3 linked regions of the Homo sapiens genome follow. The protein of the gene in region 2 purifies or fractionates together with the protein of the main gene of each other region. This does not show direct contact. Each region holds a gene or a part of one and is shown on either strand. Other genes may lie near its edges. The genes, in order: RABL6, KLK12 and NEMF.

Region 1 (3,645 bases), on a different chromosome or scaffold from region 2:
TCCTGGGGGTCGTTCTCCATCTTTAAGCCGTCGCCTCGCTTTTTGCATTTTCCTTATTTAAAAACAAACAAAAATTACGAGGTGGAACCCCTGGGCCTTGGGCCATAGGAGGAGCATGGTCCCCCCATGGCCACTCAGCCCCCAGCTCCAGCGGGTGCTCTACTCCACCACCCCAAACAGCCTGCAGCGTGGGCACCCACAAGCTCTGGAGCAGCAGGACCTGGGCGAGGCCCCTCTGTAGGCTCTGGAGGCAGGGCTGGGCCGGGCCTGGACAGGAGGTGCTAGTTGGGGCTGACAGGCTCAGCAGCTCCTGGACAGGCTGCGGTGGGATGGCCTACAGCCCTACACCAGGAGGGTTTGCTGCTGAAGGAAGGGCCCCCTCCCCCCAGCTCCCCCAAGTCCAGGGTGGGAGGAAGTACAAGGGATATGGTGGGAAGGTGAGGGGCCTCCCCCTGGGGTAAAAGTGGGGAGATGAGCGCACGGACTCTCAAGGCAACAACCAGCCCGGGAGGAAAGGAGAGGGGGGCAGGGATTCCAGCCCTGAAATGGCCTCGGGAGGGAGGAGGGCAGCTGTGTGGTGTCCACGGTCCAGGTCCCCCTGAGCCTCCGCCATCAAGGTCACCATGGCTCTCCTGAGAATGAGGGGCCGTGGTCCCCTCCCTTTAACTCCACAATGCTGACCTGAGGATAAAGGCTCCAGACCATCCTGGGAACTCTGGGGGTCCCAGTCTTGGAGTCACGGACTGGGACAACAAACAAAACCCCTAAGAACAGATGGGGCTCATGTGTTTAAAACGCCACGTCCACTTCATTCCACAGCTTGTTTCTGAACTGCTCACCACGATGTAACCCAGTCAGGGGGTCAGCCCCTCCCTCACAAGGTACAGGGGACAGAGCCAGCCCGGAGGAGCCTCCCCAGTCTGGCCACAAAGGGCTCAGCAGAGTCCCCAACACACACACAGCACAGCACTGCTGGCTGTCGGGGGCCTGCACCCAGGAAGGATGCTCACAGCCTAACCAGCACCCCCCGGGCGAGCCATTGAGACTGGCTGGATCTGCTTTGGGGAAAGCAGGCGGGACTGGAGGGGAGCCGGGTCCTGGCTGACCAGGCGGAGGTGAGGATTGTCGGCTCACCTGAGGCTGCTCCATTCAGCCTCCCTCTTGGCAGCCTGCCCCATGCAGCGTCAGCTAAGCCTGATGGCCTCGGCTTCCTCTCACCCTTGAGAACTCACCAGGTGCCCAAGAGACCTCAACCCCCTCCAATGCACTCCCCACCGGCCGCCCTGGCTGCTGTGGACAGTGCTCACACCTCGCACAGTGGGCACTGAGTCAGGGCGGGGATGGAAGGCACACTGGGCCCCATCATGAAGCTGGGGACCTTTTCCTCCTGAGGGGCCCTGGTTTAGGCTGAGTGAGACTCTCCCGGTGGGTGCTAACAGGTGGGTGCAAGGGTACACATGTAACCCCAGAGGAAGCCCAGGGCCAGGCGGCCTCTGCACCCACAGGCCTCCACACCAGCCCCGGGCACAGCAGGCCACCAGGAAGGGGGGGCCCATCCTAAGCCGTGGAGACCACACCCTTTACAGTGCCCAGTTATGAACCCCACTCTGGGCAACCGTGTCTACGGGAAGCCTGTGCCCGCTCCACGCCAAGGACAGACCCAGGAAGCCAGAGCTGGAGGCACAGGAAATCTCTGCAGCTCCGAAAGGGGCCAGGATGGGGGTCAGGACGGCCCTTCCTGAGCCACCTGGGGGCCACAGGCAGATCTGATAGCTTCTCCTCACAGTGGGGATGAGGACAATGATAGGGCGGTGGGTGGCCACCTCTCTAACACCAGAGACCACGCAGAGCTCTGCAGAGACAGCATCTGGAACACCAGGTCAGCACGGGCCACAAGAGTCCAGCGCAATGTGGTGGGAGCCGCAGGGGCCCAGCACCCCTGCGGGAACTGCATGAGCACCTGCCTCTAACCCCCCATGGCCAAACCCACCCCAACAAAGCACAGGTGGAGGGAGGGGAGCATGCGCCATCCGAACAGACACCATCACACAGAGGCGGCGGCCGCCTTTCCAGCAGAGCCTCGTAACGAGGCCACAGCCAGGCCTGTGAGGCCGGGGCGTGCACGTGGCCAGCCCTGCACACACCACACATGCACACGGACCATGGGCCCCGGGGAGGGCCATGAGCTCCACCCTGAGGACTTAGAGGAACTCATGACCTTGTGGCTGAGGAGGAGACCAACGATGTCGAGGACACCCCGGGGGCTGGTGCTGCCCTCCCACGGTCCCCAGAGTGCAGGTCTGTGTGGCTGGGGATCCCTGGCAGGGACAGGAGCGCAGGAGCTGGGTCCTCAGCTATGGGCAGGGGGCCGCCTGGTGCTGGGCTACTCCGCCAGGCAGTGCAGGAGGAGGGCTCCCAAAATAGCACCCTGGGCCTTGGGGCTCAAAGCACACCCCCCGGCTGCACCTGCCGCCACCGTGCACGCGGTCACTCAGAGACGGGGAGTATGCTAAAGCAGCAAAGCATGCAGTGCCACAGGAGGGGCTGCGCCACGCTGCGGGGTCGCCACTGGATGTGGAGGGGAGCAGAGCAGCAAGACCCTGGGCACCGTCCACGAGGATGGTGGGTGATGCATGGGCGCCGGGGGAAAGAAAGGAAGCCTCTCTGCGCAGAGCACACAGTCCCAGAGAGAAGCAGACACAGAACAGAGACGCCTCACCTTTGTCTACTACATCCCAGACTTCAACCTTCACGATGTCATCCGTGGCTGAAACAGGGAGAATCCTAAAATTAGTGCCCAACATGAAGTTCCCAAGGTGGCACAAAGCGGTCCAGCTGGTGTGGTTGTCTGTGCCCCGCAGCCACCGGCTCCCACCAGGACTTCCGAGTGTCCAGAAGCAGGGGATGTGTCCTCCCCAGACGACCACATGGCGGCTCCTTCAGGCCTTCGCTCAGACACAGCTTCAGTGACAAACTGAATGCACGGTATCTCCCTCCGCAGCCCCAATCCTGGGCACGGCCCCTCCCTCCCGGGCCCCGATCCTGGGCACGGCCCCTCCCTCCAGGGCCCCGATCCTGGGCACGGCCCCTCCCTCCCCGGCCCCGATCCTGGGCACGGCCCCTCCCTCCCGGGCCCCGATCCTGGGCACGGCCCCTCCTGGCCTCAGCATACTGGAAGGGGACCCTCCTGGCTGGGTCGATGTCTGTGTTTTTGCCCATGGAGTACGCTTCTGCTGACAGGTGCGAATGAATGGGCCCGCCTGTGTCACCTTCTGACCCTGTTTCTTCATCCAGTGACTGGCCTCTAGTTCACTTTGAGGGAGCAGAATCTAAGTAATCACTGAGGGCGGAGGCCGGACCCTCCCTTCGGAGCCACCTGAGAGGCCCCAGGCCTGCCTCACACCGCACCATCGCAGCTGGGCCTGCTGGTGCCAACCACTCCTCCTGAGCTCCCATGACTGTGCTCTGTTGTGGGGCGTGCTGGGGACTGGGGGAGCTGATGGATGGAGCCTCCCGCCCACCCAAGGATTCCAAGGGGAAGGGAGAACCAGAGGGGAGAGGCACGCCCGGGGCCCTCACACAGCCAGGCATCTGCCCCCACACCAATCACATCCACGTCGCCTGAGCAGAGGGGCATGAACGCTG
Region 2 (4,197 bases):
GACGGCTGAGCGGGTGGCAGGCACGCAGTCCCCCACCTTGCACCCCTCCACGGACACTCAGGCGCTCCTGCCGCTCCCCACTGTTCTGCCCCTCACTGTCTGTCCTCTCACCCGCAACTCTCATTCTCCGAGTCTCTCTTACAGGCTCTTATTCCCAACCTCCATCACCCTCTTTCCATCTTGGGTGTTCCCTGTTTCTCCTACCATGTCCCTGCATCTGTGTCTCTCTCTCTCCTTTTTTTTTTTTTTTTTTTTTTCAAGACCGAGTCTCGCTCTGTCGCCCAGGCTGGAGTGCAGTGGCACCATCTTGGCTCACTACAACCTCCACCTCCCAGGTTCAAGCAATTCACCTGCCTCAGCCTCCCAAGTAGCTGGGATTACAGAAGCATGCCACCATGCCCAGCTAATTTTTGTATTTTTAGTAGAGATAAGGTTTCACCATGTGTGTCAGGCTGGTCTCAAACTCCTGACCTCAAGTGATCCGCCCGCCTCGGCCTCCCAAAGTGCTGGGATTACAGGTGTGAGCCACCGCGCCAGGCCTCTCTTTCTGATTCTCTCGGCTGGTGAAGCCCATGAAGGCAGGGACATCAGTGGACCTTGTTCACTGCCTTATTCCCACCGCCTGGCACGGAGCATGTGCCCTCCATGCTCATGCGTGGACGAGTGGGTTCATGATTGAACGAGTGGGTTGATGAATGGCCTCTCTGCATCCTGCTGCTGGCCCTCTCTCTCCCTGAGTCTCTGTTTCTTTGCATCTGATCTCCCCTTTCACAAAAAAAGTTCCAGGCCAGGCACAGTGGCTCATGCCTGTAATCCCAGCACTTTGGGAGGTCAAGGCAGGAAGATTGCTTGAGCTGAGGAGTTTGAGACCAGCCTGGGTAACATAGCAAAACCCTGTCTCTACAAAAAAAATTTAAAAATTAGCCAGGTGTGGTGGCGCAGGCCTGTAGTCTTAGCTCCTTGGGAGGCTGAGGTGTGAGGATCACTTGAGCCCAGGTGGTTGAGGCTGTAGTGAGCCAAGATAGCATCACTGCACTCCAGCTTGGATGACAGAAAGAGCAAGACTCTGTCTCCAAAAAAAAAAAAAAAGAAAGAAAAAGAAAAAAATTCCAGAACATCAGTCTACTGAGGCCCAGAGAGGTGCCAGGCATAGATTCTGAAGTTGCACAAAGAGTTTGGGTCATGTTGGCCGGGTGCAGTGGCTCACACCTGTAATCCCAGCACTTTGGGAGGCCAAGACGGGCAGGTCATTTGAGGCCAGGAGTTCGAGACCAGCCTGGCCAACATGGCAAAACCCTGTCTCTACAAAAAATACAAAAATTAGCTGGGCATGGTGGCGGGTGCCTGTAATCCCAGCTACTCAGGAGGCTGGGGCAGGAGAATCACTTGAACCTGGGAGGCAGAGACAGCAGTGAGCTGTGATCACGCCATTGCACAGCAGCCTGGGCGACAGAGCGAGACCCTGTCTCAAAAAAATAAAAAAAAGAAAAAGAAAAAGAGCTTGGGTGAGACCTGGGCCCCGGGCCCAGACTGGGTCAAGGAATGGCTGGGGTGAGTGGCAGATGTCATATAGGAAAGAAAGGGTACATGCAGGAATGGGAGAGGCAGGAGGGCAGGTTCCAGGACCCTCCCCGGCCCTCCACCCAACATACCTCACCCTGCCCAGCACCACCCCAGGCCCACTGCTAAGGAAGTTCCACTCCTGGTCTAACCTCAGACTCTCTTGTTGCAGGATCAGCTTCTTCCCAGTGGGCACCACCCTCCCTTGTGATCCTACCCCCAGCGCTTGCCTTCCCATAGTCCTCCCTTCGCCCACCCCAGGAAGGGACTTACCTGCCGCTGCAGTGAGCCGCTGTGAGGACCCACCTGTGGTCAATAAGGACACCCCCGCAGCGCAGGCTGGTGCCCTCAAACAGCCCCACCTGCCACGGCTGTGAGTTACGCCCACACTCAGTGCCATTGAAAATCTTCGGTGTGGCTGCCTGGCTGAGCCCTGGAGACAGACAGGGGCATGGGTCAGAGAGAGGAAGAAAAGATACAGAGATGGAGAGACACACAGAGTGAGAGAGAGAAACAGGCAGGAGAGAGAGAGGAGAAAGAGAGACGAGAAAGAGAGAGAAAGAGAGAGAGACCCAGTGATAGAAAAAGACCATGAAACATCAAAGACACCCAGGGAGAAAGATGCTTACACATAGGAGGGAAATGGAGAGACAGAGATTCAGAGAGGGACAGAAGGGAAGAGGGATCAAAAAATAGGGGAGACCGAGGTGAGCAGTACCCTGAGAGCTGCAGGTAAATGGAGGCACAGAGAAAGCCCCTCTCCTCCTCACCACCAGGCTGGGGGCCAGAGCTGAGATGGGGAGGGTGGTGGGGCCTCCTCATGGGGGTGAAGGGATCCAGTCGCAGTCCTGCCCTCTCCCTGCTCCGGGAGAACTCACCAAGAACACACAGGAGCAAAAAGATGCTGAGCCCCATGGTGGGTCACTTCCAAAGTCTGGGGGAAAAGGGGAATCTCAGAGGTCACCCTTTCCCTGTGCCCCCCACCTCTGCCCTCTCTGCTTCTCTTTGAAGGTCACCAAGGGGATGACCTGCTTGTCCTCTCTCTACCTGCTCCCCTGTGTGTCACTCCCTCATTGGCAGTCGCCTACCTCCTTCTCACCTTGTCTCTTTGTCTGCCAGATCCTCTACGTGGCTGTCACTGTTTGGCCTGTCCTCGTCGCTGCTATCTCTCCGTCCACCTACCTGCCTGTCTTCTCATGTGCTGGCCACTCCGCCAGCCAACTCTACCACTCTGCACCTGGCTCCTCAGCCACCTGTCATGTTGCTCAACCGGTCCCTTTCCTTCCATCTGTCGCTCCAGACAGACCACTGACAAAGCTCTTAACTCTCTTTGTCCTGGCCCATCCAGTTTCCGGGTTAAGGGAAGGGGACCACGAAGACAGGGGTGGGGCGTGCTCTAATTCTGCAGAAACTCTTCTCAGCTAATCACACTTAATTGAGCTTTACAGCTAAACGGAGTGGGGAAGGAGGAAAGGACCCAGGGTGGGAAGACCCAGCCCCACTCCCTCTCTCCTCTGCAAGCCCGTCAGCAGCCCCAGGACTGATGACTCAAGGTGACTAGGGAGCTGGGTTCTAATCCTGACTCCAGTGACAAAGGAGGGTGGGGAGACCTTGGACACCTGGGGCCCATCCCCATGCAGTGCAGGGGAGGGGCAGGGGGAAGGAGAGGCTGTGAAAGCAGGAGAGTGGACGGGAGGGGCAGGAAGCCCAAGCTAGAAAGAGTCCCAGAAAGAGAAGAAGAGTTGAAGGAACAGACTTCCAAATAGGTGATCAGGCAGGGGTAGAAGAGAGTTTCTGAACTGAGTTCATATATGTACATATGAAGTGGATCAATCTAATTCCATAAAGTTTTTCTTTGCTAAGAACTTCTATTGCTTAAATAAAACCCACAGAGAGAAAAAAAAAAGACACAGGGAAGGAGAAATGGTAGAAAGAGAGAGAGAGAATGAGTCACAGGACAAGGGAACTTTGTGCTGTTTTTTGTTTTTCGTTTTGAGATGGAGTCTCGCTCTGTCACCCAGGCTGGAGTGCAGGGCTGTGATCTCCGCTCACTGCAACCTCCACCTCTTGAGTACCTGGGATTACAGGCACGTGCCACCATGTCCGGCTAATTTTTGTATTTTTAGTAGAGACGGGGTTTCACCATGTGGGCCAGGCTGGTCTTGAACTCCTGGCCTCAAGCAACCTGCCTGCCTTGGCTTCCCAAAGTGCCGGGATTACAGGTGTGAGCCACCATACCTGGCCTCTGTGCTGGTTTATCTGAGTTTTTGCTTCATCTAGGAGGAATGGAAGGAGAGAAAGAAGGAGAGAGAGAGGGGACAGAGAGAGAAAATGAGAACAAAAAGGGAATTCGGCTCAGAGGAAGGGGGATTGAGAAACAAACCAAGAGAAAAGCAGTCAGGGCCAGGCGCGGTGGCTCACGCCTGTAATCCCAACACTTTGGGAGGCCGAGGCGGGCAAGTCACTTGACGCCAGGAGTTCAAGACCAGCCTGGTCAATATGGTGAAACCCCATCTCTACTAAAAATACAAAAATTAGCTGAGTGTGGTGGTGCATGCCTGTAATCCCAGCTGCTCGGGAGGCTGAGGCAGGAGAATCCCTTGAACGTGGGAGGCGGAGCTTGCAGTGAGCCGAGAT
Region 3 (3,645 bases), on a different chromosome or scaffold from region 2:
CATCATCATCTTCCTCCTCTGATAACAAGTATGGATTTCTATTAAAAATATTCAATAGCATTTCACTAACGTCAATGACATCACTTTTATTTTCAATTTTCTTCTTCAATAAAATTATAAATGGTTTACAGTACTGGAAGTTTCATTATTTATTTTAATCTAAATTAGTTTTTTCCCTTTCTTTGAGAATTTCAAAATATGAAGAAAAAATGTTTAATACAGTGAACAATTAAAATAACAAAATAAAGACAAGCATTAACTGCTTGACTAAGAGTCAAACTTACCTTAGCAGCATTGTAACATGGTTTGTTTGTAGTTTTAATTCTTTGATTGCACTTGCAACAGGGTCTCCTTGAGCCTGGGCTTCTTTCACAATTAACCCAATTTCTGTCCAATCTATCTGGTTAGCTAAAGCACTTCGAACTACCTGAATGGCTCTGTCAACTATTTGTAGGTTCATTTCTATGAGCTCTCCTTTCAGTTTGTCTATTTCCTTAAAAAACAAACCACACACATTTACTACATTGCCAGTTAAAGTTAACATTTTTGAAAAAGCACTGAGAAAGCCAAACATAATACCTGAGCCTGCTGAAGAGCTTCCAATCTGTTTTCGTGATCCTTTCGAACATTATCTAATTTCTTCAATGCTTGCTTTTCCTTTTATTGGCAAAACAGATTTTTTAAAAATTAGATTTCTCCTACCTCATGACATCCCTCTCTTACTTCCCAACACTCACTATCCTGACCCCATCTATGCTGTTATCTAGCTAGCTGAAGTTCCCATAGTCTACCACCCTAGGCCTATCCCACTACAATGCGTTCCATGCCCCAAAATTACTTCTCCTGTCTTCCTAACTCCCACTCCTTATATAGAAAGGTATTTTGATTACAGGTTACTGTGTATATAAGATATACCCCTAATACCCTTGGCATTATTCAAACAGGCAGAAATCAAGACATTTTTTCCTATGGCACAAAAGTAAAGTTTGGGAGAACGAATTCTTTATTTTTTTTTAAATAATAGAGACCGGGTCCCGCTATGTTGCCCAGGCTGCTCTCCAATGTCTGAGCTCAATCCTCCCACCTTGGCCTCCCAGAGTGCTGGGATTACAGGCCTGAGCCACTGCACCTGGCAGGGAATGAATTCCCAAAGAGCATAAATTACCAAATGACTTTGTATTTTTTGCTACTTTTGATTTTCTCACAACTATTTCCAGTATTTTACAGAAACTTTTTCCCCTAAATTAATAAGACAAAGGCTCATGGTAGTTATTTGGCATTTTATCATATATACTTTACATTTCAAGGTTATCAATTGGGGGACAAAATTTCTAACACTAGTAATATCATCAATTAATGAGTATTTAAATGCTAGATGAAATATTTTTTAAAATTTAGATAAGAATGATGACTATTAAAACCCACAAAATAATTACCAAAATAAATCACTAGTATTTTGACACCCATGAAACCATGGGGTTCAGTTTACTAGCCAAAGTGCTGCCACCATGTGGTAATTACATGATGTATATAATTCATCTGACTGGCCTACCTGCTTTGAAATTGTGCTATGATTAACTAATTTTTAAAAACTGAAGAGGAAGTGGTACAGGGATTCAAACAATTTGATTTTTTTTTCTTTAAGGCAGAGTCTCACTCTGTCACCCAGGCTGGAGTGCAGTGGCACAGTCTCAGCTCATTGCAACCTCCGCCTCCCAGGGTCAAACAATTTTTGTGCCTCAGGCTCCTGAGTAGCTGGACACCCATACCACACCCCATTAATTTTTGTATTTCCAGCAGAGACAGGTTTTCACCATGCTGGCCAGGCTGTTCTTGAACTCCTGACCTCAAGTGATCTGCCCGCCTCGGCCTCCCAAAGTGCTGGGATTTACAGGCGTGCGCCACCGCGCCCAGCCTCAAATAATTTGAAATTTTTGCACACATATTTTAAGACTGTTTTTGAAAAAATCAAATCCCCTTCAAATCAAGAGTGACTATTAACAATTTATGAAACTGTTCTGCAGCAAATGCTCTAAAAACATGGTCAAATGTGCTGGGAAAATACTGTATATCACTTCTTTTGGAGTCATGATACACAGAAAACATATTAAGACTTGGCTTTAAAGTCCATTTAAAAAAGAAACAGTTTAATGATAAACAATATCCCCTCCTCTGGCCTATTTAAAATCTCCCTAAAACAGTATCTCCTTAACAGCAATGTTTGAGAAGCTTTGGGTTGTTCTGAGCAAACCACATTAAGGTGTAAATAACAGGCCTCACGTTCCCACCGTATTTTCCTTTTTTTACAGAATATCTGAAATACTCATGAAACAAATGAGGACATACTTTTCAACAATAAAATCCCCCATGGACCTTCTTCATAAACCTTTATCATAAATAAAGAGGCAGGTCAGAGAGTTCCCATACTACTTCTTACACTCTTTCTGAAAGGCTACCCTTTCCTATATCATCTACCCATCAAGCCGCTAAAGACTAGCTGGTTTAATATGTGTTTTTAATAATACATACCTGTTGTAAAGCTTTTAAGTCAATTTTCTGGCCTTCTATCTTGGAATAAAATTCATCCACCGCCTTATTAAAAAAACAAACAACTAGTTGGAAAAAAAAGCACAGTCTCTACTTCAACTTGCATACACAGAATTTTATTTTTTTTTTCTTTTTTTTTGAGACAGAGTCTCACTCTGTTGCCCAGGCGGGACTGCAGTGGCGCGATCTAGGCTCACTGCAACTTCCACCTCCGAGGTTCAAGTGATTCTCCTGCCTCAGCCTCTCAAACAGCTGGGACTACAGGTGCACCCCACCACACACCGCTAATTTTTGTAGTTTTTCAGAGACAGGGTTTCACTGTGTTGGCCAGACTGGTCTTGAACTCCTGACCTCAACTGATCTGCCTGCCTTGGCCTCCCAAAATGCTGAGATTATAGGCATGAGCCAGCAAGCCCAGCTGCATACACAGAATTTTAGATTCCATTGTGTTTCATAACACCACTCAAAGAACTTGAACAGATTTCCGGTAAATGTATTATATGGCTAAACAGTATCAAGAATCAAATGAAGTTCAAACCTCTGGTCCTTCATCCTGAAATAAAGTGGCAACAATTATTTCCAACAGCTGTATCTGTGACGACACTGATCTTTAATGCCCAGATTCACAGTGAATGTAAAGCAAGTATAGTTTCAGTTTCTCAATAGAAGCAAGTTGATATCAACAGCTCATATCATGCTAACTAACTGGTAAAGGAACAGAACGGAAAACCCACCTTGTCAAATGATTCAAATTCTATATATGGACATTGTGAATGTTGAGAAAACAAGAAAGGATGAAATTCCTCATACCTGTAAAACATATTTATTATATCACATTCGAGAACATTAACAAACATCCAAAGCAAATTGACCCATGCCTATATGCTTACGTCAGTATGTCTTCAACTGGTTTATCTGCTTCCAAGCTTGGTTTTATTTCTCTTTTCTGAATGATATATCCCTACAAAAATGCAACATTAAAATCATTCCTATTCATAATTAACAAAGATTTACTTCTTTTTTTTTTTTTTGATACAGTCGCGCTCGCTCCATCACCCAGGCTGGAGTGCAGTGGTATATTCTCGGCTCACTGCAACC

The links.
Region 1: the proteins of KLK12 (region 2) and RABL6 purify together in Homo sapiens (affinity purification with mass spectrometry; one large-scale study listed by BioGRID and IntAct). This does not show direct contact.
Region 3: the proteins of KLK12 (region 2) and NEMF purify together in Homo sapiens (affinity purification with mass spectrometry; one large-scale study listed by BioGRID and IntAct). This does not show direct contact.

Annotation. Positions count from the first base shown.
Region 1 is NC_000009.12:136,824,901-136,828,545, reverse strand, and holds part of RABL6 (rab-like protein 6), read right to left. Parts: intron 2,768-3,645; coding exon 2,720-2,767; intron 53-2,719; coding exon 1-52. UniProt on the Homo sapiens protein: May enhance cellular proliferation. May reduce growth inhibitory activity of CDKN2A.
Region 2 is NC_000019.10:51,032,147-51,036,343, forward strand, and holds the start of KLK12 (kallikrein-12 isoform 2 precursor), read right to left. Parts: upstream 2,857-4,197; 5' UTR 2,660-2,856; exon of another isoform or gene 2,649-2,659; intron 2,495-2,648; 5' UTR 2,476-2,494; coding exon 2,439-2,475; exon of another isoform or gene 2,279-2,438; intron 1,994-2,278; coding exon 1,834-1,993; intron 1-1,833.
Region 3 is NC_000014.9:49,828,770-49,832,414, forward strand, and holds part of NEMF (ribosome quality control complex subunit NEMF), read right to left. Parts: intron 3,509-3,645; coding exon 3,438-3,508; intron 3,358-3,437; coding exon 3,282-3,357; intron 2,593-3,281; coding exon 2,530-2,592; intron 658-2,529; coding exon 580-657; intron 494-579; coding exon 285-493; intron 39-284; coding exon 1-38. UniProt on the Homo sapiens protein: Key component of the ribosome quality control complex (RQC), a ribosome-associated complex that mediates the extraction of incompletely synthesized nascent chains from stalled ribosomes as well as their ubiquitin-mediated proteasomal degradation.